4 linked regions of the Homo sapiens genome follow. The protein of the gene in region 2 interacts with the protein of the main gene of each other region in a biochemical or structural test. Each region holds a gene or a part of one and is shown on either strand. Other genes may lie near its edges.

Evidence for each region.
Region 1: the proteins of EWSR1 (region 2) and ELK1 form a complex in vitro, tested with the Homo sapiens proteins (one study listed by BioGRID).
Region 3: the proteins of EWSR1 (region 2) and POU4F1 form a complex in vitro, tested with the Homo sapiens proteins (one study listed by BioGRID).
Region 4: the proteins of EWSR1 (region 2) and PRMT8 form a complex in vitro, tested with the Homo sapiens proteins (one study listed by BioGRID).

What each region holds. Positions count from the first base shown.
Region 1 is NC_000023.11:47,635,021-47,640,590, forward strand, and holds the end of ELK1 (ETS domain-containing protein Elk-1), read right to left. Parts: intron 4,319-5,570; coding exon 3,875-4,318; intron 3,163-3,874; coding exon 2,731-3,162; intron 2,095-2,730; coding exon 1,993-2,094; intron 1,908-1,992; coding exon 1,809-1,907; 3' UTR 501-1,808; downstream 1-500. UniProt on the Homo sapiens protein: Transcription factor that binds to purine-rich DNA sequences. Forms a ternary complex with SRF and the ETS and SRF motifs of the serum response element (SRE) on the promoter region of immediate early genes such as FOS and IER2.
Region 2 is NC_000022.11:29,292,243-29,299,269, reverse strand, and holds part of EWSR1 (RNA-binding protein EWS), read right to left. Parts: intron 6,783-7,027; coding exon 6,664-6,782; intron 3,032-6,663; coding exon 2,902-3,031; intron 1,444-2,901; coding exon 1,321-1,443; intron 538-1,320; coding exon 375-537; intron 76-374; coding exon of another isoform or gene 37-75; coding exon 1-36. UniProt on the Homo sapiens protein: Binds to ssRNA containing the consensus sequence 5'-AGGUAA-3'. Might normally function as a transcriptional repressor. EWS-fusion-proteins (EFPS) may play a role in the tumorigenic process.
Region 3 is NC_000013.11:78,600,538-78,607,993, reverse strand, and holds the start of POU4F1 (POU domain, class 4, transcription factor 1), read left to right. Parts: upstream 1-4,441; 5' UTR 4,442-4,667; coding exon 4,668-4,790; intron 4,791-4,839; exon of another isoform or gene 4,840-5,442; coding exon 5,443-6,579; 3' UTR 6,580-7,456. UniProt on the Homo sapiens protein: Multifunctional transcription factor with different regions mediating its different effects. Acts by binding (via its C-terminal domain) to sequences related to the consensus octamer motif 5'-ATGCAAAT-3' in the regulatory regions of its target genes.
Region 4 is NC_000012.12:3,564,176-3,571,202, reverse strand, and holds part of PRMT8 (protein arginine N-methyltransferase 8), read right to left. Parts: intron 2,498-7,027; coding exon 2,355-2,497; intron 1,770-2,354; coding exon of another isoform or gene 1,727-1,769; coding exon 1,639-1,726; intron 1-1,638. UniProt on the Homo sapiens protein: S-adenosyl-L-methionine-dependent and membrane-associated arginine methyltransferase that can both catalyze the formation of omega-N monomethylarginine (MMA) and asymmetrical dimethylarginine (aDMA) in proteins such as NIFK, myelin basic protein, histone H4, H2A and H2A/H2B dimer.

The sequences.
Region 1 (5,570 bases), on a different chromosome or scaffold from region 2:
AGTGAGGTTTGTCACCTACACAATCTTTGCCACAATCCCTGACAACCTCTACTGTAGTTTCATGCCCACGTAGTCTCTCACATGTGGTTTTGGTCACCCAGTCTGTCTTGCTCGCCATCAAACAGTGACAGGGCTGCAGTCCCCGTTCCCTTCTCGTAGACATTATTTTGTGCATACCATCACAGGTTCTTGTACAGTACCTTGACTATTCATCCAGGCTCAGTTATTTTCTGAAACACAGCCACAATTTCCCACATAGACACACCATCAAAAGTCTGTGGTCACAACTTCTGCACACTCTCACACACAATCACAGCTTTCCACGTCTCTGACACACACATGGTTACCGATATGCAGTCCCTACTATTGTTTCTCACACACGCCATCACACCGTTTCTCTCACAATCGACCTCTGCCTCACACCCTCCACACACAGTCATGCGTGTCACGCTCAGCTAGTCCTGACAACATCAGAGAAAAAGTGCCAGCAGCCTCCAGCATCACTTTGAAAAATATATATTTACAGGAACAATTCCCCATTCTCTGGGACTCTTTAGAAAAAAAAAAGGTCCATTTTGGGGAAGTAAAACAAACAGTGGAGACGAGTGTAGCACTGTCCCCCAAATCACCAACCCCCAGGTCCCAAGGCCTGGGCTGGGCCAGCGCTAACAGGTGAGCCCAGGAGTCTTTTGAACCCACTCTCTCTTGCCTAGAATAGAGACAGGACAGGCTTTATGTCCCCCATTCCTCCCTCCCAACTCCAGGGACATTGAAAGGGTCCTTTGTACCCGCCCGCAGGAAATTGGGGGGCTGGGAGGGAGGGAACTGAAAATTCATGTTTGGTATCAAAAATAAACACTTGGAGTGGGGGAGGCGGCAGGAAGATTCCCCCCCAAATCCCTTCCTTCCCACCCACCCCACCAAATATAGGAAGAGATGACTCCCTCTCCCCTATTGAAAAGCCCCATTTAAAAATAGATTATACTATCAAAATGGCAGCGGGGGAGAGACAGGGAGACCTGGAGTACTGGCTGGAGGGGCCCCCCAGACGGGGACCACCCCCCAAAAAAACCCTCCATTGGGAGGAAACAGGCAGGACCCCAGGGAGGTTGGCAGACAAAGGAATGGCTTCTCAGGGGGAAGAACAAAAGGGACATTCCTCCCTGGCCAAAAAGTTGGTTGAAAAGGATAAGCTGTCTGAGAGAAAGGTTGGGGAGGTGGAAATTTCTATTCCAAGGGTGTGATTCTTCCTTGGCCAAGACTCCCAACCCATTAAATGGTACAAATTCTTCCTGGACCCCTGAGTATGGCCAGGAATAATAAAACAAAACAAACTAACTCTTCTACTCACATCCAAAAACGCAGACAGGGCTCCCTCATCTCCCCAAGGGCAGGCTGAGAAATAAAGAAAGAAAGGTCGTTCTCAAGCCAGACCTCGATTGTCTTGTCTTGGGGAAAAAAGTGGGGAGGTGGGGGAGATGTCCTAACCACCCTAAAAGGTTAGGTCAGGCTCCTCCCAGTGGCCTTCAAAAAATAAATAAATAAACCGCCCCTACCATTGAAGTAGGAGACGTGTAAGGGCGGCCACTGGGGGACTGACAGAAAACAGAGAAGTTGTGGAAGCTGTGTGTTTTCTGTGGAGGAGATAATGAGAGTTACTCTTGGGAGTAATTCTTCCCAAGGATCCCCACCCCACCACAATCAGAGCATGAGTCTTTCAGTTGAACTATGTTTCTCCTTGAGATGGCTGGCTGGAGAGAGCATGGATGGAGTGACCCCAGAAGGGGTGGTGGTGGTGGTGGTAGTAGTCATGGCTTCTGGGGCCCTGGGGAGAGCACCACGGGGGTCGAGAGGCCATCCACGCTGATAGAAGGGATGTGCACCTGGGCGCTGCCACTGGATGGAAACTGGGGGCAAAAAGAGGGAGAGGTCACAGATGGGGGCCATTCTTGGGTCTCTCACCCTGTCCAAAACGGGGAAAGAGGATCCTACCTGGAAGGAGAGCTTGGCCGGGCTACGGGGCGCAATGGGACTCAGGGTGCTCCAGAAGTGAATGCTAGGAGGCAGCGAGCTGGGTGTCAGCAGCACCGGGGTCTGTGGGGAGAGGGTGGTCGGAGCTCAAGTGAGTAGAAAGTAGATGTGGGATGCTGGAAGGGACTTGGTCCCGGCCCCACCACAGATTTCCCACTCACACTCCCAGGGTCACTCCCCAAAGTGCACACACCTAGATGGTAACCATGGAGGCCATGCCTATGATCTCTCAAACTCTGCAGACACCCCCCACTCCCCACTCCCGAGAGCCCACCCTCAGTTGCTGAGACCTCATTGGTCAAGACCACCCACAAGACCCTATCCAAATGCTGCTCTCAAACCTCTCAAGTCACCATCCCAACAGCTCAGGGTCAACTTCCAACTCATGTCCCACCCATGAAACCCCATATGCACATCCCAGACCAAAAAGCCCTGCTCAGGTTCCTTAAGCCACACCCCAACCTAGAAACAGTCCCACAGAAAGACCCTCGGTCCCACCCACAAAAGTCCCCAGCCCTGCCCTTCACTAATCAAACCCCATCCCTCCAGCCAGCATCAGCCCAGTCAATCACACTCAAAGGCTCCACCCTCTTCAGGAACAACCACACTCACCCTCCTCTGATTCCTGTCAGTCACCCGCCACATGCCAATCCCATTGGTGCTGGCGCCCACACACCCCACCCCTCCGCAGGCACTCACCAATGTATGCGTAGGAAGCAGGGATGGGGTCAGCGCCGGCCCCGGAGCCTGGAGGCCGGAGCCACTTCCCGATCCTGGGGTCCGTTCGGGTCCCGGCCCACCTAGCAGGCTCGGGCTGAGTGGAAGCTCTAGGTCCCGGGGCTTCCGGCCCTTCTGCGGCTGGGAGATCTCAGGGCTGGAAGCCGCATGGCCGCCCGCCTGCCCTGCGGTGTCCATAACAACCGCGGGCAGCCGGGCTGGCACGCCCTCCTGTGGAGGGACTTCTGGCTCGGCCTTGGTGGTTTCTGGCACAAACCCTCTCTCCCCCGCAACTTCCAACTCTTCCTTGGGCCCTTCTACTTTCACTTCTGGGGGCAAAGCCCGGCCCAAACCCGGCTCCACATTAAGCTCTTCCGATTTCAGGTTTGGGGCCTCGGGCGGGGTCAGGATGACCTGGTAGAGGAGCAGGCACAAAGAGGGTGTGTAAGGATTGTTGGGACCACAGGATTCTCCTGTGGGCCACCCAGTGATTTCCCCGGGAAGGTGGCACTTGGTACTCAGGGCATGACTGCACATCAGAGCAAGTCCTCCAACAGGACATAGGACTTCGTCAAGGAAGTAGGGCTTCCTCTGGGGCAGGTCCTCCTATGGGACAGGGGACTTGGGGTGAGACAACCTGAAGCGGGTAGGAATCTGAGGGATACCATCCTCATTCATTAAAACAGTGGTTCTCAAAAATTTACCTTCCTCTGGACCAGCAATATCTGCCTCATTTGGTAACAAGTTAAAAATGCAAATTATTGGGCCCCTCCCCAGCCCCACAAATTCAGAAACTCTGGGGGTGTGCCTGGCAATCTGTGGTTTAACAAGACCTACAGGTGATTCTGATGAGCACTAGAGTGCGAGAACCAGTGCATTAAACATATTCCAGGCACCTACATGTTCGGCAGCTACTAACTGTAGCACAGTATTCTCCCCTTTCTGTCTCAGGATTTGTGTAGCTCTCTGCCCCACCCCTCCTTCTAAGAGGATGTCTTCCTTCCACCATTATCTCCTTTAACGGGACAGCTATGTCTCTTCTACCAGCCTCCCTCGTCATCCGGGGATTACACATCCCTCCTCTTTACTGCCTCCTCTTACTGAATTTCTATATTCCAGTCCTTACCTGCAGAGGCAAGCCGGCCTCTTCAGCCTCCAGACAGGCCTCCAAGGGGCTTGGACTGGTGCTCCTGCTCCCCGAGGGGGGCGCTGCTGCCCCTGCAGGAGCTGCACTGGGGAGCACCACAGCAGGCCGAGGATGAGGGGGTGGCTGCGGCTGCAGAGACTGGATGGTGAAGGTGGAATAGAGGCCCGAGCGCATGTACTCGTTCCGGCTGCTGCGTGCCAAACCGCCTGGGCCTGCCATTCCTGCACCCTTGGGTGTGCCTGGCTTTCCAGAGACAGTGTCCCCTGGGGCGGCATGTATAGCAGCAGGGGCCACATTTGGCATGGTGGAGGTAACAGACACCTCTGGCTGGGGCGGGCAGTCCTCAGTGGAGCACCCTGCGACCTCAGGGTAGGACACAAACTTGTAGACGAACTTCTGGCCGCTCACCTTGCGGATGATGTTCTAGGAAGGGAGGAGAGGAACAGAGGGCCTTAGAGGAAAGGGGCAGGCTGGAGGCAGGGTGTCAGGGGGGAGGAGGGGGGTGGAGTGGCATTTCTCTTCTCCTAGTGGCTTTCTTCCCACTTGCTCCTCTCCGGCTTTCCCGTCCCTCCTCTGTAAGTTTCTCTCTCAGCCCATTTCCTCTCCCATTGGTTTCTACCTCTTTCCTCTCCCGCCAGATTCCCCTTATCTATATCCCTCCCCAGTTCCTCCCCTTTCTCTCTTCTCTCCACAATAATTTTTTCTTTAAGCCCCTTCCCATCCACCCCTTTCCAAGCCTCCCTTTGTCACTCTCCAGGTCCGTCTATCTGATTTTCCCACTCCCTCCACACTGTAGCTCCTCTTCACAATGGGGCCCATGAAGGGCAGTAGGTGTGGGAGCAGGTCTTCTTCCTGGCTCCAAGAACCAGAGGTTCACAGGGCCAGGCCTTGTGGGTGACTGTCAGGACACAGTTTTGGAGACTAGCAAATGCAATAAGACAAGAAAATGAAGTAACTGATATAAATGTTGGAAGAAAGTAAATTAATGTAGATGGATGGGGTGATGAATTATTAATACAGAGGATTATTTGAAGCTAATGATACAGAAGTGGAACAGGGCAAGGTCACTGCAGAGGAGAGGGTGAGGAGGCCTCATTATTAATACCACTGTGGAGGTTGAAGCTAAAATGGTAAGAAAATGAAGTAACTAACAGCAATTAGACAAGAATATTAAAAATACTGGTATAAATATTGGGAGGGGGCCTATATCAAGGCTGGCTTTGCTGGGTCACAGAGCATGTTTGGGGTTTTTCAGGTCTGGTGGGTCTCAGAGATGACCTAGTGTTCCCAGAGGGCAGAGTGAGATAGCCTCATTACTAATATTGTTCTGGAGGGTTGAGCTCAAGGAATAAAATATGAAAATGGAATAAATGCCATAAACTATGAAGGGTGTGCAGCATATGACCAGGGCAGTTCTGGGAGTGTGGAGGCACTAGGGCATTCTGTGGAAGTCTTAGTGCTGGTCAGATATGTCACAGGGTGGGCCTGTGTTTCTCGGAAGAGGAATAAAAAGGGATATTCATGAATATTGTTTGGGAAATTTCAGTAGAAGGATTAAGAAAATGAAATAACTGGTATAAATATTGGGGGGAGGAGAAACCCAGCAGTGGCCTGGGGGTCTGAGAGGGCAGGATGGGGGAAATTTTAAATTTTAGCTGTAGGAATAAGATAATGA
Region 2 (7,027 bases):
TCTGTTCTCCAGGCGAAGTTCTGGTTTCCACAACCCCTGCATACAATTACATCACAGCAGAAATCACCAATTGAACTAAGGAAGATAAACAAGGAAAGGTGGTGTGTGAACAGGTACACACTCACTATCAAGAGGATCTATGTACACCCATGCTTTAGGGCACAGCCTCAGGCAGCATTGCACCCACAGGACAGGTCAAATCAATCTTCAGAAGGCTCTGAAGCGTCCAGTGAATGGCTGACTAGTGTCCCTAACCAGCCATCAGGGTCATCATTCTGTTCCTCTAGACAGAGCAATCCACTCTAGAGTGGGGATGGGGTGAGGGAAGGGTGGCTTCACTCGTAGGGTATCAATTTGCCAAGACAAGTACATACGGATTGGGACACTGCCAGTCTCCAGCTCGGTGCTGGACGTTTCCTCCTCCAGAGGGGTTCCCTCGGGAACCCCGGGGTCCTCTTGGAGGGAAGCCTCCTCTATCTCCTCCACGGCCTCCCATGCGACCCATGGGTCCCCCAGGACCTCCTGGGCCTCCTGGACCTACAACAAGAACAACAAGAAACAGCAAATCATTTCTCTGTAGCACCAAATTTGCTATAGGAAATAAAAATCACTAAGTAAACCCACAGATACTACTGCTGTCATTTCCCCATCACCTGTCCCGTGTTTCCGTGTGGCTCAGGCCATCAGCCCCCTTCCCTGTGAGGAGCGTGTTCCACGTGCTCTACAGAAACAGAGCTCCCACAATTTTTTTTTTTTTTTTTTGGAGACGGAGTCTCACACTGTTGCCCAGGCTGGAGTGCAGTGGCACGATCTTTGCTCACTGCAACCTCCACCCCCCCAGATTCAAACAATTCTCCTGCCTCAGCCTCCCGAGTAGCTGGGATTACAGGCATGCACCACCATACCCGGCTAATTTTTGTATTTTTAGTAGAGAGGGAGTTTCACCACGTTGGCCAGGCTGGTCTTAAACTCCTGACCTCAGGTGATCCGCCCACCTCAGCCTCCCAAAGTGCTGGGATTACAGGCGTGAGCCACTGCACCTGGCTGAACTCCCACAATTCTGTAAGGAATAGGCATGTCTATACAGACACAACCAAAGCTGAATAAATGGCAGTCTGGAGTTGACAGGCAGAGTGGCTTCCAGCCTCCCATGTTCTTCTCTTCCTTTTATTCCCAACAAACATTCATTGTTAGCTCTCGATAGTCTAGTATTGACTCTACACACAATTTTATATTTCTTCACTCTAATAATCAAGTTTCTCAAGGGTATGAAGTGTACTGAAAACCTTTTAATGCAACATAGGAGCTCAGAAAAAGTACCTCCACGGAGTGGTGGTGGCATGCCTCTGCCCTCACGGGGTGGCAGACCACCCCGCATACTGTTCATTGGAGGCTTCTTCCGAGCAAGGGAGACTTTAAGTTTGCTCCCTTGAAAATCTTTCCCTGGAACAAGACAACAGAACATCAATTACTCCCCTGTACTCCCTGTTCACCAACTCCACATCATCATCAAATGACCACTCCCAGATGCATTAGGTCTGCCTGTAATCTTCTCTAAGATCTTTAATGACAAGGCCAGAAAAAGGCTTTTTTTGAGATGGGAGTCTCACTCTGTTGCCCGGGCTGGAGTGCAGTGGCACAGCTCACTGCAGTTTCAATCTCACTTGCTCAAGCAATCCTCCCAAGTAGCTGGGACTACAGGCACGCATCACCATGCCCGACTAATTTTACAAAATTGTTTGTAGAGGCAGTGTCTCACTAGGTTGCCCAGGCTGCTAGTGAACTCCTTGGTTCAAACAATCCTCCTGCCTTGGCCTCCTGAAGTGGTAGGATTATAGGCAAGAGCCACTGTGCCTGGCCAGAAAAAGGCCATACTTAAATACACTTAAAAACCTTCCTACAGCCTGACCAACATGGTGAAACCCCATCTCTACTAAAAAATACAAAAGTTAGGCTCAGCGTGGTGACATGCGCCTGTAGTCCAGCAGCTACTCGAGTGGCTGACGCACAAGATTGGCTTGAACCTGGGAGGTGGAGGTTGCAGTAAGCTGAGATGGCTTGTGTCACTGCACTCCAGCCTGGGTGACAAAGTGAGACCATCTCAAAAAAAACAACACAAGCAAAAAACACTGTCTACCATAAGGAGGAAAATAAGCTGGTGGGAAGCTGACTGCATGACCAAGAAAACAGAACCAGGACTTGTTATTTGACACTTTCTTTGAGACAGAGTCTTGCTCCGTTGCCCAGGTTGGAGTGCAGTGGTGCAATCTCAGCTCACTGGAGCTTCAAACTCTCCGGGCTCAAGTGATCCTCCCACCTCAGCCTCCTGAGTGGCTGGTACTATAGGTATAGGAGTGTGCCACAACACCTGGCTAATTTTTGTATTTTTTTTGTAGAGACAGGGTTTTGCCATGTTCCCCAGGCTGGTCTCAAGCCCCTGGATTCAAGCAATGCACCGATGTTGGCCTCCCAAAGTGCTGGGATTACAGGTGCAAGCCACTGGACATGGCCAAGTCATTCAATGCTTTCAAGTTGGTTTTGTCTGAAGTGAAATCCCACCATTAATGTCAAGGCCTCATTTAAATATATATATTTATCTATATGCAAATGTACACTGGCTAAGATGTTCTTTTGAAGGGTTTTCTGTACCTTCTGATAATCTGTGCTTAGGAAGTGTTTGCCACTTTAAGCAAGGTTGATTTGTAATACTAATGCCTCAAAATAAAGGGATCTCCAAATCCAGGGTCAATGGCTGGGTGCTACTACTACTGCAGGGAGACCGGCCATCTACCTCCCCCAGGAAGAGATGGAAGGTCTTCTTGCTCCTATGGTTCACAAGTTTCTCCCTCATGCCATATTCTATAGCCAGGGAGATTAAGAATGCCAGTGAGTACATCTCACCATCAAACCATTCCACGGCAGCCTTGGCAGTGGGTGGGTCTTCATAGGACACTGTGGCATCGCCTTTGGGCTTTCCTGTTTCCTTGTCCAGGTAGATGTGGATCATGGGTTGCCCAGTTCTCTTGTTCATCTAGACAAAGAATAGCATAGTTAGGCATGACTAGAATATACTAATTTGGGAGAAAAAAGTCCAGGCAAAATCCAGGAAAAGTACCAATTTCTCACATGTAGTAAGTCACTAAATGTCACCGTTTCTCCGCTTTTAAGTTTTTCAGAATTCTAAGTTATTTTCTCCTCTATCCCTGCTTTATCATAAAAACCAAAGTAGACCAAAGTGTGGAAGTGAACAGGATAGGCCCCACTCCTGCCTTAGCCATCTTCTGATGCTGGTTTGCCTGCCCTGGCATTTTCTATGCCCAGACAGGTATCCACTGAGCACAGCCACCTCGTAGGGGTAGTCAGACTTTGATACCACCACATAAGACATGACTGGCATAAAGAAAATTATCCTTAAACCGTGAAGGACAGTGTACAGGCTGTGAGTGAACTACAGGGATTCTTGGTTAGTCTAACACAGCCACTACTTCCTCCAGTTAGAACAGATGACTAGTCTTTCAGCTGAATATCAGATGTGGTTGACTTGAATTCAGGAGCTACCTTGTATAAGAATATCTTCACGTGTACTTTTTTGCATTATATATGCACACGATCAGTTTAGTCTGTAATTGTTTACATATATCCAGTAACACAAGAGCAATCTATTTATAGGACTTAAAAAAGATTACAACAGGATATATATATTGATACCTCTGACTTAAAAAAAGGAACGTGATACCTAAAAACTGAAAAGAAAATATGGCAAAACTGTGGTATGAATAATGTGGAAATGCATTTTTTTCTTTTTTGTGAGACAGAGTCTCACTCTGTTGTCCAGGCTGGTCTCAAACTCCTGGGCTCAAGCAATCCTTGGGATCCTCCTGCCTTGGCCTCCCAAAGTGCTGGGATTACACATGTGAGCCACTGTATCCAGCTTGGAAATCTATTTTAACATCTTTATTTCCAAAATTTTGATGGTAAATACTACTTTCTTAACCAGGATAAACTCCACATTCCTCAATAAACTACATGTTATATACATATTAAAAAGCAGTCTTTTTAATATGCTCAAGCCTGTACTCCCAGCTACTCAAGAGGCTTGAGGCTTGAACCCAGGAGGCGGAGGTTGCAGTGAGCTGAAATTGTGCCACTGCACTCCAGTCTGGGCAACAGAGCAAGACTCCATCTCAAAACAAAAAAGCAAACAAGGAGTCTTGCACAGGGTAGAATGTGACAGTAGACACTAAAAGCATTTTACTTTTGAGGTGTGTGTGATATCTGTGCACACACACACCTACAAGCAGGGAGAAATCACCTTATATAAGATTTACCAAAATCAACTGTATTTCCTTTTTTTTTTTGAGATGGAGTCTTGCTCTGTCGCCAGGCTGGAGTGCAGTGGCGCCATCTCAGCTCACTGCAACCTCTGCATCCTGGGATCAACTGATTCTCCTGCCTCAGACTCCCAAGTAGCTCAACTACAGGCGCGTGTCACCACACCCGGCTAATTTCTGTATTTTTAGTAGATACGGGGTTTCACCACGTTGGCCAGGATGGTCTCGATCTCTTGACTTCGTGATCCACCCACCTCGGCCTCCCATAGTGCCGGGATTACAGGCATGAGCCACCACGCCCGCCCAAAATCAACTGTATTTTTTTTTTTTTTTTGAGGCGGAGTCTCACTCAGTCACCCAGGCTGGAATGCAGTGGCGCCATCTCAGCTCACTGCAAGCTCCGCCTCCCAGGTTCATGCCATTCTCCCGCCTCAGCCTCCGAGTAGCTGGGACTACAGGTGCCCGCCACCAAGCCTGGCTAATTTTTTGTATTTATAGTAGAGACGGGGTTTCATCGTGTTAGCCAGGATGGTCTCGATCTCCTGACCTCGTGATCCACCCGCCTCGGCCTCCCAAAGTGCTAGGATTACAGGCGTGAGCTACCGCGCCCGGCCAAATCAACTGTATTTCTATACACCAGTAATAACCAGAAAAGTGTCATTTAACGAAGACCCTTAACCACAGCAACTTGAAAATAAACGAAACCTAGAAGTAAAACTAGTAAAATTTGCAAGACCTTTAAGGAAATCGATAGTCTTTACTGAAGATCTAAATAGGCTGGGTGTGGTGGCTCACACCTGTAATCACAGCACTTTGGGAGGCCTAGGTGGGTGGATCACGTGAGGTCAGAAGTTCAAGACCAGCCTGACCAACCTGGTGAAATCCCATCTCTACTTACAAAAATTAGCCAGGGGTGCTGGCAGGCGCCTGTAATTCCAGCTACTCGGGAGGCTGAGGCAAGGAGACCCGGGAGGCAGAGGTTACAGTAAACCAAGACTGCGCCACTGCAATCCAGCCGGGTGAAGGAGTGAGACTCTGTCTCAAAGTAAAATAAAATAACAAATAGAGACAGGCCAGGCACAGTGGCTCATGTCTGCAATCACAAAACTTTGGGAGTTGAGGCGGCAGATCACCTGAGGTCAGGAGTTCAAGACCAGCCTGACCAACATGGTTTCACCAAACCCCATCTCTACTAAAAATACAAAAATTAGCTGGGTGTGGTGGCGGGCACCTGTAATCCTAGCTACTCAGGAGGCTGAGGCAGGACAATCGCTTGAACCCAGGAGCCAGAGGCTGCAGTGAGCCGAGATCGTGCCACTGCACTCCAGCCTGGTGACACAGCAAGACTGTCTCAGTAAATAAATAAGCAAATAAATATACAAATAAATGGAGAAATAAAATCTTCATGGGGAAAAAAAGATCACTCAGTATCATAAAAATGTAAATTCTCCTGAAATTACTTCATAGATTTAGTAAATATTCAATTGGGGTTTTAAGGTTTTGAGGTTTATGGGGTTCATAAACTAACTCTAATACAGAAGAGCAAGAACTGAAAAACAGTCAAAATCCCTGAAGAAAAAATCTGCGTTACTAGCTATGAAGAATTAGCATAAAGACACAATAATTTGAGGTTGGGTGTAGTGGCTCATGCTTGTAATCCCAGCAATTTGGGAGGCTGAGGTAGGTGGCCACTTGAGGTGGCCAGGAGTTAGAGACCAGCCCGGCCAACAGGCAAAAATCCATCTCCACTAAAAATATAAAAATTAGTTGGGTGTGGTGGCATGTGCCTATAAGTCCAGCTACCTCAAGAGGCTGTGGTGGGAGAATCACTTGAACCTGGGAGGCTGAGATTGAGCAACACTCTGTCCCTAGGGGTGGAGGAGGGAAGGCCGGGCGTAGGGGATCACACCTGTAATCCCAGCACTTTGGGAGGCGCCAAGGTGGGCAGATCACCTGAGGTCAGGAGTTTGAGACCCGCCTGCCCAACACGGTGAAACCCCATCTTTACTAAAAAGACACAATTAGCTGGTGGCGCACACCTGTAATCCCAGCTACTTGGGAGGCTGAGGCAGGAGATTCGCTTGAACAGAGGTTGCAGTGAGCCAAGACTTGCGCCATTGCACTCCAGCCTGGGCACCAAGAAGGAAACTCCGTCTCAAAAAAAAAAAAAAAAAAAGGCTAATCTTTTTTAAAAAGGAACAAACCATAAGATACCTAGAAAGAAGTCAGGCAAAGGCAACCTTAGAAAACAACTCTCAACATCAATTCAATCTCTTTAAAATGCTCTGTGGTTTAAAGTTCTGCCAGATGACCTGGTTATGCTTTTACTGACCTTAACAACCCCACACTGCTTAAAGAAGTCTGCCAGATCATCTAGAGTCACACTGTCATTTAATCCTTGTACATAAATTGCACTGTTGTCAGAGTCTTCATCTGGATCTACAGGTGGGCCTTTCAGAGACAACAAGACAGGAGAATTATTATCATGTATCTATAGGGGTTTCTTAACTACCTGATCACTACTGCCCAAGGATATTCATCATAAATCTAAGAAAACTACCAAGCATACTAAGAAGAATGCTATCAAACTTTTGGTTTACTTCACTTAAGGCAATTATGAGTAGATGCTCACATAGGATTTCCCAAACTGTCCTTGACAGCAAGAATATCACACTGGTCTATAAGGCTGCTGAACT
Region 3 (7,456 bases), on a different chromosome or scaffold from region 2:
ACGACGGTCTCCGGGAAATCTCCGAGCCTAAGCGACCCGGAACGTGGCCCGGAGAACTCCAACCTCAGCTCTGGGCTGGGTCCCGCGGGCCTCGGAGGGCAGGCCACTGCCCGGGATGGCCCCCAGTGAGGCCAGCGAGGAGCCCAGTAGCTATCGCCTGGGAGGTAGCGGACCAAGATGCGCGACACTGGGATCAAAGCAGCTCAGGCATGACCCTGGGAAGGCGGCCCAGAGGGGAAGCGAAAGTTCCACCGTCCTTTCTCCATTCCTTCCTCCATTCCACCCTTCAGTGTCAGAGCCCAGGGCGCCGGGACAGCCCAAGGGCAGCCCCTGTTCTGAGACCCGAAGATCTTACCCATATCCTGCTCCCCTGCTGTCTGCCCTTTCACATGTGCTTAAAACAACCTAAGTGGCCTCTAAAGCCAGCCGACCCTGGGCCCTGGGGGCTTCTCCTGCATGCAGGGCGCTGGCTGCGTGGTGAAATGTGCCTCCTTTCAAACTAAACAATTGCCTACGCACAATGTAGCTCCCCGAGTCTGCGAGAAACACAGCTCCGGCTTCGGCCACCAGAACCCAAGGTGGCCGGGCCTGCAAGTGGGGCCCGGTTTCCAGAAGGAGCGAGGGGCCCGGCCCCCCTCCCCTGTATACCCACTACCGCCACGCACTTATGTCGAAGTCCCTCAGACCCGATCCTGAGTCCCTAAACCCCAACAGACAACTCGGGTTCAACCCCTCGGAGGTGAGAAGGTGGGGCGAGTAGTGGCTGCGGAGTCAAATACTAACTTTCTCCGCACCCGGTCGGAAGGAGGATGTCAGTGCCCAGGTGGGCAGCAGCTATCAGGCGCGCTCTCCAAAAGTGGAGGATGGGAAGTTGGCGGTTCAGGTCAAAGGTGAGGAGCGTTCACCCCAGACAGTGCGGATCCTGGCACAAAACCTCTCCCGCCAGTCCTCACGCCAACCAACGAAGGTCTGCTCCCTTAGGTCGGGAAAAGGGCGCTGCCAAAGGAAACGGGAAGTGAGGCCTGCCAAAGGAGGAGGAGAAAATTAATTAATGAGGGAAAGAAATGTGTCTCTGATCCACATGATAGACTCCCTGTCCCTGGGGGCGGAAATTCCTTGGAAATCAATAGTTGTGCATTCATTATCCTTCTCTTGATAAAATGCAAAGCTATGAGATGAGGAGGAGGAGGAGATCTGTGTTGGTCATTAAATAAGAAGGAAAAAAAATTGCCCAGGAATCTATGCCAAGGCTCAGACCCCATGTGGGTATCATTAGCACAGGCAGGGGCCAACGAGTTACAGCAGTTGCCAAACCAGGAAAACAAAACAGTGACATATGGGTGAGCTGAGCCCAAGCCCACCACCTTTTCCTTTTACGCATCAGGAGGAAAGTAGGGAGAGGCTTGATATGGTCCAGGGAACTGCCTGCAGATGTGCCAGCATGCCCTATTCTTTAGCCTGGGCTGAGAACCAACGAGGATGAGGCATGATAACTGTCCAAGCATCACCCGCTCCATATTTCTATACACATCCCTCTCATCACACCTGTTATACCTGTGTCATAGATGCCTTTTATCCGTGGCTTCCCCACGCACATACACTGTCACCTCCTGCAGGGCAGGTACTCATATTGTATACCTCATTTTATCTCCAGTGTCTTGTACTGGGCCAGACTACCGCTCAGCAAGAATTTGAGGAAGGAAGATAAGGTAGCAAGTTAATGAGGGCGGAGTGAAATAATTGGCTCCTGAAAAAGAACAGGCTGGAATAAAAATTTACAGCTCTGCCTGGGGAAAACACACCCCTCCTTTTTAAGGAGAATGTAGACCCCCCCATCCCCCCACCCAGGGATCTTCCTGCAATCTCCAACCAGCCCTGGATTGTTGAACAGCCCCTAGGCCACCACCCCTCCCCCAGGCTACCCGAAACTGGCCTCTCTTCCTTCCTACACACGTGTTTTTTGGTGGGGTACTTTTCCTGTGACAAACTCTGCACTAAGTGCTATAGTGAAGATGGATGTATCCTAGATGGGCTTCCTATCCATGGTGGGAGGGGGAGGGAGGATTGTACCCATAGCCCTCATGTTTCTGGTCCCATCAAAACACCCAATACCCCAAGCAAAGATCTGGCCTCACCCCAAGGTGGGGTATTCCTGTTGTCGAAAGAGAGGTGAACAGGGAAGGAAATCTTGGTGGGACTAACTCCTAACTTCAGGCTAAGGTGGCATCTCTCCGCTGGGTTTAATGGAAGCCTCCCAGGGTTGGAGGGTGAACCGAGGTGCCTTTTGGGTACTCAGGAGCTCACCTGGCTCTCAGAGGCCCCACCCGGCCGCAAACCTGTACTGTTTACCTTTCTGTTGCTCCTGTACCCTTCAGGGTCCCTAAAGACCAGCGCTTCCTTGAGAGGGGAGGGGCAGGTTCCAGGCCCTCACCCTCTGTGGGGGCCTTTTCTTTCCCGTCAAGAGAGAGCGCAGGGAACGGCCACCAGGGGTGTCAGGAAGGACTAGGTTAAGCCCGGACTCCCGGTGTGATGACTACCGTAGGACTCACTCTTTCCCTCTAGCGACGTCCTGCTCATCGTCCACTCCCCGTTGAGATAAAGTTGCATTTAGCGCTCCCAGGGGACTGCGTAATGGATGGAACCAGCTCCTTCTCTCACCAGCAAGTGAACATCCTTCTCACTTCCCTCTGGAGCTAGAAGGAAGGGAGGGGGTGGGGGGGAACATGAAAAGAAAGAAAGAAAAAGCCATGGTGACGCCTGTGGGCTCTTCTTGGAATCTGAGTAGGTGAGTGGGTATGCTAAACACACATGCATTTGTGCAGAGGAAAGATAAAATCCACGGGAACGCAAATTTAGGTTTATAGAAATGAGATCTGCTCTTTGGTGGAAATACAGACTTCCTTGGTGTGGGAGAGAACAGAAAGATTATCTGATTTCTGCTTTCCATAAGCAGCCCCTTGCTGCTCTCCAGCTCTCTTACCGCAGATGTGATAACATCTGGGCTGTTAGGTTATTATCACCGCGAGCAAGTGCTCCTTCCCTGGGGACTTTGGCACCTGAACTGTGGCTCCCCTGGGAGGCTCTTGATCTGCTACCACATAAGGGCCATATAACAGGTTGGCTAATTGATTTATTCTTTTTAGGTCTTAATTTCACAATAATTTTTTAAAAATTTAAAAACTGGACCAGAGCTTGTCCCCGTTCTTTCAAATTGGCTTGATTTAATATTTTTGAATCAAGCTTTCCTGTAAGTTAGTTTGATCTGTCTCCTATTGAAAAAAATATATATAAGCAGGCAGAGATATGAGGCAAAAAGCCAAAAAGATGGAAGGGAAAAGAAAGTTCTCTTTTCAACATCTTATTCCCTTTTCTCTGAAGCAGTTTTCCTGGAGTTCCCAGCATAAAGTGTGTGTGTGTGTGTGTGTGTGTGTGTGTGTGTGTGTACGCTGAGGGGAGGAAGGATCCCAACTACACCCTGTTAACTGTTTTTTCCTTTTGATTACTAGAAGCCTTAGATCACCCGGAGCTCGTTTGAAACGTGGGTTTGTACACGGTTGAAGGAGACAAACAATAAGAGAAATGCACAATTTCATTTCAACAGCTTTTCCCGAGTAGAAAGCACACGCTCCTTGTGGCTCCTAAGTGGCTGTCACTGGCGGTGCCTGACACAGTTATATTCACAACAACAACAAAAAAGTATGCGGAGGAAATTAAATTATATGGAAATCAATAGCGTCTGACTGCTTCAAACAAATGTCTGTCACCGCGATTATTCTCCAGGAACCTATTTATAAACCTTTAAAGAAACAGGTTCTTGCAGCAAAAGACAGCACCTTCTGCATTTCTGTGTTGTTATTTATACTGTATACAGAGGAATGCGCGGGCATAATTTAACGTAGAAATGTCCAGCTGTATACATTATACAACAGCTTGTTAGGCATCCCGAAGAGGAGGAATGCCTAAGTAATGCTCATATATTCAAGGCTTGCTATCAGGGAGAAGAAACATACACACATACACACACACGCACGCACACACACACACACACACACACATAGAGGGGCGTGCGCGCATCTCGTCTTTTTTATTCTAAAAGGTGCCCACCCTTAGACAATAGCTGGACCTTCTGATCTTTCCAGACCACGGTGGGAAAGGTGAGGCGGGCAGTGCGCATGCCCGGGTAGCTACAGGTGCATCACCTGCGCTGTCCTTGCTGGTGGTCACTATAAGAGCGGCTCCCACGCGCTGGTCGCGGCCGGACGAGCGCGCGCGCGCGCAGACGCACGGGGCCGCCGAGAAGGAGAGCGCGCGTCAGACAGACGGAGACAGCTGATGCCTGTCAGCGCGGTGGGGCCGCGAGCTCTCGCGAGAGCTCCCCGGGACGGCCGCGAGAAGTGGGGCTCAGGTGTTAGAGGAGTGCATCCCGTCGGCGCGCGGGGCTAGAGCTGTCGGAGAAGCGGGACCGCGAGGCCGGCGCGCGGCGCTCTGCGCGGTCAGAGGGAGCGCCTGGCAGCAGCAGGAGCAGCAGCAGCAGCCCGCGGCGGGGCCGCCGCCAGCCGCCGCGACCGCCGCGGCTGCAGCCTCCGAAGGGAGGCCGGGTGAGCCGGCGTACGCACTTTCCCGCGGACTTTCGGAGTGTTTGTGGATATACATGCCAAGCCGCCACGATGATGTCCATGAACAGCAAGCAGCCTCACTTTGCCATGCATCCCACCCTCCCTGAGCACAAGTACCCGTCGCTGCACTCCAGCTCCGAGGCCATCCGGCGGGCCTGCCTGCCCACGCCGCCGGTAAGCGCCCCACGCCCGCGGCCCCGGCCCGCGCGCCCGCCCCTCCCCGTCTCCGAAACGCTGCATGTCGGGGGCTGGTGTGTGCAGGTCCCGGTGCGGGGAACTGCGGGCAGGGGGTGTAGAGCAGTCCCGCAGCGAGGCACGTTTTGTCCGGCGGCCCTTAATGTCGTGTTCCTGTCTGCCTCTGCCTCCGCGTCAGGCGCCTGCGATCGGAGTAGGGAGCGCTGGGGCCAGGACTCTCGACTTCCCTCTACTTTCTCTGTTAATTTCACGCCTCAGAAAGGCAGTCTCTGTGCGTGCTCGGGTGTGTGACACGGGTCCCCAGCTGCGAGTTACATTTCCATTTCTTCTTTTCCCTCTTTTTCGTCTCCCACGCCCGTTTCCGGAATGTGTTCTTGTGTCCCCCTTTCTCCCTACTTCTGTCCCCCTCTCCACGCTCCCATCCCTTCTCGTCTGCCCCCTCCCTGGTCGTCAATGTGCCCCCTCTCCGTCTTTCCCGCTCTCCACTGCCCCCAAACCCGTTGTTATTTTGGTTGCTTTGTGTTTGCCCTTCGCATGCTGTGCTTTCCGGCCTGTGTGTGTGTTTCTTCTGTTGTTTTGTTTTGCTCTTTTGGTTTTGTGGTTTTTTTGGTTTGGTTTGTGTCGCCTGCAGCTGCAGAGCAACCTCTTCGCCAGCCTGGACGAGACGCTGCTGGCGCGGGCCGAGGCGCTGGCGGCCGTGGACATCGCCGTGTCCCAGGGCAAGAGCCATCCTTTCAAGCCGGACGCCACGTACCACACGATGAACAGCGTGCCGTGCACGTCCACTTCCACGGTGCCTCTGGCGCACCACCACCACCACCACCACCACCACCAGGCGCTCGAACCCGGCGATCTGCTGGACCACATCTCCTCGCCGTCGCTCGCGCTCATGGCCGGCGCGGGCGGCGCGGGCGCGGCGGCCGGCGGCGGCGGCGCCCACGACGGCCCGGGGGGCGGTGGCGGCCCGGGCGGCGGCGGCGGCCCGGGCGGCGGCCCCGGGGGAGGCGGCGGTGGCGGCCCGGGGGGCGGCGGCGGCGGCCCGGGCGGCGGGCTCCTGGGCGGCTCCGCGCACCCTCACCCGCATATGCACAGCCTGGGCCACCTGTCGCACCCCGCGGCGGCGGCCGCCATGAACATGCCGTCCGGGCTGCCGCACCCCGGGCTGGTGGCGGCGGCGGCGCACCACGGCGCGGCAGCGGCAGCGGCGGCGGCGGCGGCCGGGCAGGTGGCAGCGGCATCGGCGGCGGCGGCCGTGGTGGGCGCAGCGGGCCTGGCGTCCATCTGCGACTCGGACACGGACCCGCGCGAGCTCGAGGCGTTCGCGGAGCGCTTCAAGCAGCGGCGCATCAAGCTGGGCGTGACGCAGGCCGACGTGGGCTCGGCGCTGGCCAACCTCAAGATCCCGGGCGTGGGCTCACTCAGCCAGAGCACCATCTGCAGGTTCGAGTCGCTCACGCTCTCGCACAACAACATGATCGCGCTCAAGCCCATCCTGCAGGCGTGGCTCGAGGAGGCCGAGGGCGCCCAGCGCGAGAAAATGAACAAGCCTGAGCTCTTCAACGGCGGCGAGAAGAAGCGCAAGCGGACTTCCATCGCCGCGCCCGAGAAGCGCTCCCTCGAGGCCTACTTCGCCGTGCAGCCCCGGCCCTCGTCCGAGAAGATCGCCGCCATCGCCGAGAAACTGGACCTCAAAAAGAACGTGGTGCGGGTGTGGTTTTGCAACCAGAGACAGAAGCAGAAGCGGATGAAATTCTCTGCCACTTACTGAGGGGGCTGGGAGGTGTCGGGCGGGACAGAATGGGGAGCTGAGGAGGCATTTTTGGGGGGCTTTCCTCTGCTTGCCTCCCCTCGGATTTGGAGTGTCCGTTATCCTGCCTGCATTTGGGGAGTCCCTTCTCGCTCTCTTTCCTCCACCCATTCTCTGATTTTCCTGCCTTTGCTGTCCCCTAGCCTTGAGGACTGGGGTGCTGGGTGTGGGGATTGGAGTATAGGGTAGGGGAGAAGGGGGGGAGCATTCGGGGGAGTGGGGAGTGGGGGGAAGGAAAGCGGAGACCCGAGCAGGGGTTTTAAGGAGCAGGATGGTTCTGGGGTTTGGGTGGGGGGAGACGCGGGAAGGGTAGGAAAATGGACTGTTTCTGACCAGAGACACTTACCTAAATATCCTGGGGACCAAGGAACTATGTACAAAAACAAACCTACCAACCACCAAAAACTAGACAAATAAAGACAAACTAAAACAAAACAGAACAAAAGCAAAGGAAAATGCTTTAGAAATTTTAACTCCGGGGAGCCATAATCTGCAACTTCATTTTCCCCCATAGAAGAGAAAAAAGAGCACCACCATTATTACCACCTCCCCAACCCTACACGCACGAACTGAGTCGAAAAACGAAAACCAAACGAGCGAGAAGTTGAAGTTCTGGGTATCAAAGCTAGTTGTTCTGTCTGCGTGTTTAATTTTTCCCTCTCTCACCTCCACCCCATCCATATCCTCTTTATTTCCTCCGTTCCAATGAGAGGCCTATGGCTGCTCTCCAATCCCGGGAAGTGAGTGGGAGCACAGCTGAAAAGAGAGGGTCAGGGGGAGGCTGGCTGCTTGCTTAGGTGGAATCCAAGTTTTCCCGTGGCCCTGCCTATACTCTGGT
Region 4 (7,027 bases), on a different chromosome or scaffold from region 2:
TTGGCAGTCAGGCTCACTTGCCAGAGCCAGGGGCAGAAAGGGGCTTAGCTACACAGTCAGAAACTAGTTCCCATCTAGTCCCATTATAGGACCAAGAACTGTCACGTCCTTTAATATATGTCATCTCACTTAATCCTCATGACAAGTCTGTGGGATTGAGAAAATTATCCCTTAACTGAGGCCCAAAGGTATTAGATAATTTGCTCAAGGTTACCCAGTTAGGACATGGCAAAGCCAAGATTTAAACCCAGGGCTGGCAGTGTGCAAAGCATTTAACCTGGGCCCCCCTGCCTCTCACTGTCCTCATTTGGTATTTTGCCTCCTTCCCCCAGGAGGTCAAATAGTGGAAATCACACCAGATTGGCTGGAGGCAGACAGCAACCAGAGACGGTTTCCAGGGCACAGAGCTTCAAACAGCTGTCCCACTTTTGTCTTCTTCTGAACCTGGCTCTGAACTTCACACTTTGAGTTTATATTTCCAGAAAGGCATGAACCCACACAAATACACACATCCATAGCAGAGTCCAGCCGAGTTTTCATCAGTGCCACTAACGACGATTAGATGGCAATTGTTTAAATCCACAGAGCCACAATTTGTTGAACTGTGGATGGAGTCTTAGCCTCTTGGAGGCATTTATTCTTCTACTCAATCTGTGAACCCCTCCACAGTAATCTTGCCAAGTAGGAATGGACCACCCTGTTGGGGCAGGAACCGCAGATGTGCCCAGTCTGATGGATAGGTTGGAGCTTCTGCCTCTTGCTTTAATTTGGATTTTTGGGTGTTTGCCTGTTTGAGGGGTTCTTTGCTCCTTTGTTGTATTTGGTTCTGGTTGAGGAGACACAGCCATGTTCAACTTTACAAAAACATGTTTGGTATAATCTCATTAAGGATCAGGCCTGTGTCACAGAGAAGTGTCACCCTTTACGAGAAATAGGATAACAGCCCTTTTCAGACCAGGTAAAACATTGCGGGGGAGGAGAAGTTTTTTGGCTTTATTGTTCTCAGAGAACCACACACGCCTAGCTGATAAGGCATTAAGAATACATGTTTAGATACGAGCCCCTGCCTCATGCACACATGCACACTCGCCTTTCGTTTGATTGTTCAAAGCAAAATCTCCACTCTTTCCCACCCCCTCTGCTATCTATTCCTCAAAAGAACCTCAAATAATATGTATTTGCATAAGAGAATCAATATTATTTTGATAAGTTTGAATGGAATGGAGGCAGGATTCAAAACAATTGGCCTGGCAAGAGACCTGCTACTTCAGACCCCTGCGGTGGACTTTTGGGCTAACTGAACCTTGACAGGTTTCAAGCCACTTGCCCTGCTGATCTCTGCAAAAACTCAGCTTCTGCTGCCTCAGTCCAATTTTTAATTCACATTGCATTCATTCTTTCACCCCAGGACATTTCTCTCATCCCAGCCATATGGCTTATTTTCTGTCTGTAGACCTAACACCCTTGGGACTAGATAGAAACATTTAGAGAGCAGACTCCAGAAAGGGTCCCAGATAAGCTCCTCTTCAGGGACAGCAATGGTGTTCATGTCACTGCCTGCTCATCTCGGGCCCACTGGAGTGCCTCCCACCCCAATTGTGCAGTGGAAGTCCACCGGAGAAGCAAGAGGGGACTTACAGTGGATTTTGAAGTCCTTGTACTGTCTGTCTTCAATCGCTACCACGTACAAAGCTGCCCGGTCTGGAAACATAAGCCCTCCAGGTTTCTGTTGATGAATTGTGGGGAAATGGGTCTCGTAATCTATTCACCTGACAAAGACATCACATTTTGAACTGCACATAGAGTCACCAGACAAGCACCCCCTTGCCACCATCTCTCATGCAGTGGACTGTCACCTTGTCTGGGGTGAGGGCTAGGACAGCAGTGCTCAATTTTTATTTTGGAGCAAGGAAAATTTAAGGGACCTAGGTGGAGTCAATAGGACAAATGAGGTGAGGTGAAGGTAAATCCAGTGAGGAGCAGTGAGAGATGTTACGACTTTGGCCTGGAGAAGCCCAGATGAATAGCACACCTGGCTCTGGCAGCCATGCAAGTCCTAAGTACTTGCTGACCGAAACGGACCTTTAACTCGACAAGAGAGAACGGATGTCTGTTATTGCAAAAGAGGCTGCGGTGAGACCCACGGAAGTCCACTCTGATGGTTACACATGCTGGACCCGGGGCAACCATTCTGTTCCCTGATACAGATCTGCTCTAGAGAGAGGGGCTTGGGGCAGTGACCTCCTGGCCTCAGTCTTCTCTGAAGTCTTCGTATGCCTCCTAGGCTGCAGGCCTTGGGTAGAGGAGCAGGACAGCCAGCCGGCCAACGCGGGGACAGCATGCAGGACACTTACCAGCCACTTGTCCCTGGCAAAGATCACCGTGTTGAGCATGGACTCATAGAACAGACAGTAGCCCATCCACTCGCTGATGATGATGTCCACCTTCTCCACAGGCAGCTCCACCTCTTCCACTTTACCCTTAAATATGGTGATGACTGGAAAATAAGAACCCCAGGGCCATACTTTGCAGGGACCCCACCCAGGAACCACAAGCACCTCACTTCAGGGCCAGATCTCCAGGTTTCAGCCCTATTCTGATTCTACTTTTAGGATATGATGTAGCTCACCCTTTACCAAACTAGTTTATACCAACATAATTGAAAACTACCTGCATGTTTTCCCTGTAAAATAAATTGAGCCATTACTATGTGCCTGGCATAGCGCTAAGCCCGTTATATGCGTGGTATCACGTCATCCTTCCAACAGCCCTGTGAGGTAAGCACATTACAACTGACCCTTAACAACCTGGCTTTGAACTGCACAGGTCCACGAACACGCAGATTTTTTTTTTTTATTTACACCAAGTGTGCCTGCCTCCCCTTCCACCTCTTCCAGCCACCCCTGAGACAGCAAGGCCAGCCCTTCCTCTCCCTCCTCCTCAGCCTATTCCATGTGAAGGCAATGAGGACAGAGACCTTCATGCTGATCCACTCCACTCAGTGAGTGGTAAATATATTTCCTCTTCCTTAGGATTTTCTTAACAATTTCCTTTTCTCTGGATTACTTTATGGTAAGAATATAGTATATAATACATATACCAGATATGTGTTAATTTTTTTTTTTTTTTTGAGACGGAGTTTCACTCTTGTTGCCCAGGCTGGAGTGCAGTGGCGTGATCTCTGCTCACCACAACCTCCGCCTCCCAGGTTCAAGCGATTCTCCTGCCTCAGCCTCCAAGTAGCTGGGATTACAGGCATGTGCCACCACGCCCGGCTAATTTTGTATTTTTAGTAGAGACGGGGTTTCACCATGTTGGCCAGAGTGGTCTCAAACTCCTGACCTCAGGTGATCTACCCGCCTCGGCCTCCCAAAGTGCTGGGATTACAGGCATGAGCCACCACAGCCAGCCAATGTGTGTTAATTGACCAAGTTATCAGCAAGACTGCTGGTCAACAGTAGGCTGATAGTAGCTTACTTTTGTGGGAGTCAAAAATTATGCTTGGATTTTCAACTGTGTGGGGGATTGGCACCCCTAACCCCTGTGGTAGTCGGGGTCAACTGTTATTTTTGTTTACAACTAAGGAAACCGAGGCTTAGAGAGGTTGAGTAGCAGCAGTGGAAACAGAGCCCAGATCTGATATGACATGACTCTAAAACTCTTCTCAAGGCCCCCACCCCTATGTTAGGTTACCATGACAATTCAAACTCAAAGAAAGCATAGATGCCTCCTCTATTGCTTTTGCATTTGTTCACAGCCAGGCTCAATACCAAATGGGTGCCCTTCTAGTGTTTGTGAGGGAGGAAATTGATATTTTGATGAGAGCATGGGCTCTGCAGTCAGGGAAACCTAGGTTTAAGTGCCAGATCTTCTCACCATTAGCTGTACGACTTTAGACAAGTTACTTGACCTAACTAAACTCCAATTCCCAAGTGAACAACCATGAAAAGCAATATCAATTTAGAGGGTGATTGTATTGATCAAATGAAATAACACATGTGGAGTGCCAGGCCCATAGCTAAAGCTCAACAGAAGGTGGACATTATCTGACATATTCCTGCTTGTTGATCCACAGATGGAGAGGGGAAGCAGATAGGGCCAGGGTCAAAGCCCCTGTCCCCAGTGGCTTCTTCTTATGAGTCACCTTCAAGAACTTCAGTTTCCTCTGTGGGAGGAGACACTTCTTAGTTGAGTTTTTGATAAACTGACATAGACATACACATAATTTTGGAGTCCCTTTTTGTATTTGTTGCTGTAAAGATCTGAGCAAGCTAGTTTAGATACCACTGTTAAATTGGCAGGCTGATGTATTGGTTGGTTTGTTCTTTCTGAACATTTCCTTTGAAAGGTTACATATATTCATGCTCTGAAACTCTCATTCTGCAATATCCTCTGAAAAAAACTCACACAATGCCTGAGCTTTGCTGGGAAAAACAAACAATGGCCTGTACTTAGGAGTAAAAATCAAAAGAACCACATCTGCCTAGAATCTGAGTTTCATGAAAATTAATTTGGACTGAGGCTCCTGGATGGCAAAGAGCACACCGTTTGCTGGCTTTATTTAGTTTCTTCACAGTGAATAATGCAGGTGATGGAGTGTCCATTAGCAGCTTCTAATAACAGTTTACTCTCCACTATGTGGTATTTAATCAAGCTTTAATTGGATACAGCCTGCTCTACAAGGAGTAAGACACTTTGTACACATGCATTGACCCTGGTCACTCTACAGTGAGGTTCAGTCTTGGGTGGCCCTCCTGACTGGTTACTGCTCAAAAGCCCCTACCATTAAAAAGTATGAGCAGGAAGAGCTATTCTCCAAAAGTTTTGGTGGGAGTGGGAGGGGTAGGTGTTGAAGTTTCTCTGGGTCTCAGAGACCCCAGGGCAGGAACTCAACTGAGAGCAGGGCCCAGGGTGCACTAAGAAAATTCATAGAGTGGCAAAGTAAAGGATTTTTTAAAATGCAAACATTGTGCCTAATTTATTTCTTATTTTGAAAGAGAACTGACAAATATATGCATGACTCACCTGCCTAATCATTTGCATGCAAAGCCTGGCTTGCCTTAGTTTTGTAAACTTAAAAATTGTCTTTAATGGCCTCCCTTACTTTTTTTTCTTTGCACGTTTCTTGAAGGTTCTTCCCTAATGTCTGCCTGTGTCTGTGTGGCTATGGGTCAGTTCCTCCTCCTGCATTTATATCATGACCTCTCTGTAGCCCTAGAAGATGTTTTCTCCTGCCTCCGGGGCCTCATGACCTCTACCCTGAGTGTTTAGTACAAGGCTCCACCCATGACAATTTTTGTGGACAGGACTCTATTAGGAGCTGCAGGAAACAGACAAGGAGTAATCCATCATCAAGTCTAACAAACAGGTATGTATGAAATATTCCTCAGGTGTCCCCCAAAGAGAGTTACTGCTGCTCATGTTCTCTGTGTTAGCCCTCTTATCAATTAGTTGCTGTAACCTCATCAATATGGATTACAAGAGATGATTGATAGATAGACAGACGATATAGAAGACAGATAGATGATAGCTAGATATAGGGGGTCACAGAATAGCAAAAATCACAATCTCTGCTTGCAAAAAGGCAGAAGGAATCAGTTAACCCTATAAAATCCTCAACAGTCTGGACTTCTGTTCTCTTAACATCACCCTTCTACATCTATTCAAGTGCAGACATTTCTCAGTGTGGACATGGCCCCACAGTTGGCTTGGTGAGGAGATGAGCCCTTTGTCAAAGGAAAAGGACCCATCTCCCTTCAATCCAGTGCTGGACTGGCTTTTAGACTCCATTTATCCCCTTTCTCCGGTGCTTTTGTGCTCAACCTGCACAACTTTATGCTGGAATCCTAAAAGGCAGCAACTTACGCTCTTGTTCCAGGTGACAGCTAATCTCAATCAAACATCTCCTCTCTTTTATTTTCCTCATTAGGAAAAAAAAAAAGAAGGGAGGTTGAATCTGAAATTCTTTGCAGTGCCAGAAAGCTGCGGTTCTTCAAATGTGTACTGAGCACTTGTTATGTGTAAGGCATTCTGCAAGATTCACTGGTGGAGACAGCTGGCATCAATAAAAAAAGATGGTGCCTCCAAGTTCCAGTTTGACTGTCATTTTCAACACTTCCTGGGTCCTTTTATTTTTTATTTTTAAGAGGTCACATTCTTTCTGTGCAGCCAAATACAACTGTCCAGCTGAATCACCATGAATATTCTTCCTGCAGTCTGTAGTCACCACCAGCAACCACTTAAACTTCCAGATTCAATTTTCCAATCTACAAAATGCTACCTGTCATGGTGGGGCATATGCCAACTTACTAGGGGCTATTGGCCAACATAGGGCATTAGGCTGGCTCAAGGAAGTGTGTGGGCACACACAGCAGCAGTCTTCCCTTCTCCTCCATGCAAAGGATTTTCAAGGGGGTCTAAGCTATTGATATTAAGATTCCGAGCAGCCGTAGGCTGCAGAGCTCCATGCCCAATCTGGACCCCAAGTCACTAAAACTGCATCAACTCAAGGTTGCACTGAGGTCACCGTCCGGATCCATGTTTTTATTCCAGAAGGATGATGGAAAGTTTGTTCAACGAACTATGACAGGACTCTGGCTGGTAAATTACAGAATGATTAATCAGAACTAAATGCACAGCAGGGAGCAATAGACTCTAAATTGGGAAAACTTCTCCTGTAGCTTCAAGTTTGTAAGTGAGACATCCAGATTTTTAAAAATGGTTTTGAGTGGAATTTTTTCTTTTTGGTTTGAGTGGTTCTTACAGAAATCTAGTCATTCTCATTAATGGTCATTTTTGTTTTTAAACAAATCAGGCCAGCTCAACCTCATTTGAGCCTCCAGTGCATCCATCAGGGTCAGCTGATGCCCGTAGGATCTGAAGTTAGTGATCATTTTTAGGTCCTCACTCTTTCAGAGAGCAGGTCCTGTGCCACACAAGAGGAGGCATGAGGGTCACAGGCATGGGAACATATTATGAGCCTATGAAGCCCCCTGACCCCCCTGCCAACCCCACTGCAGCAAAGCCC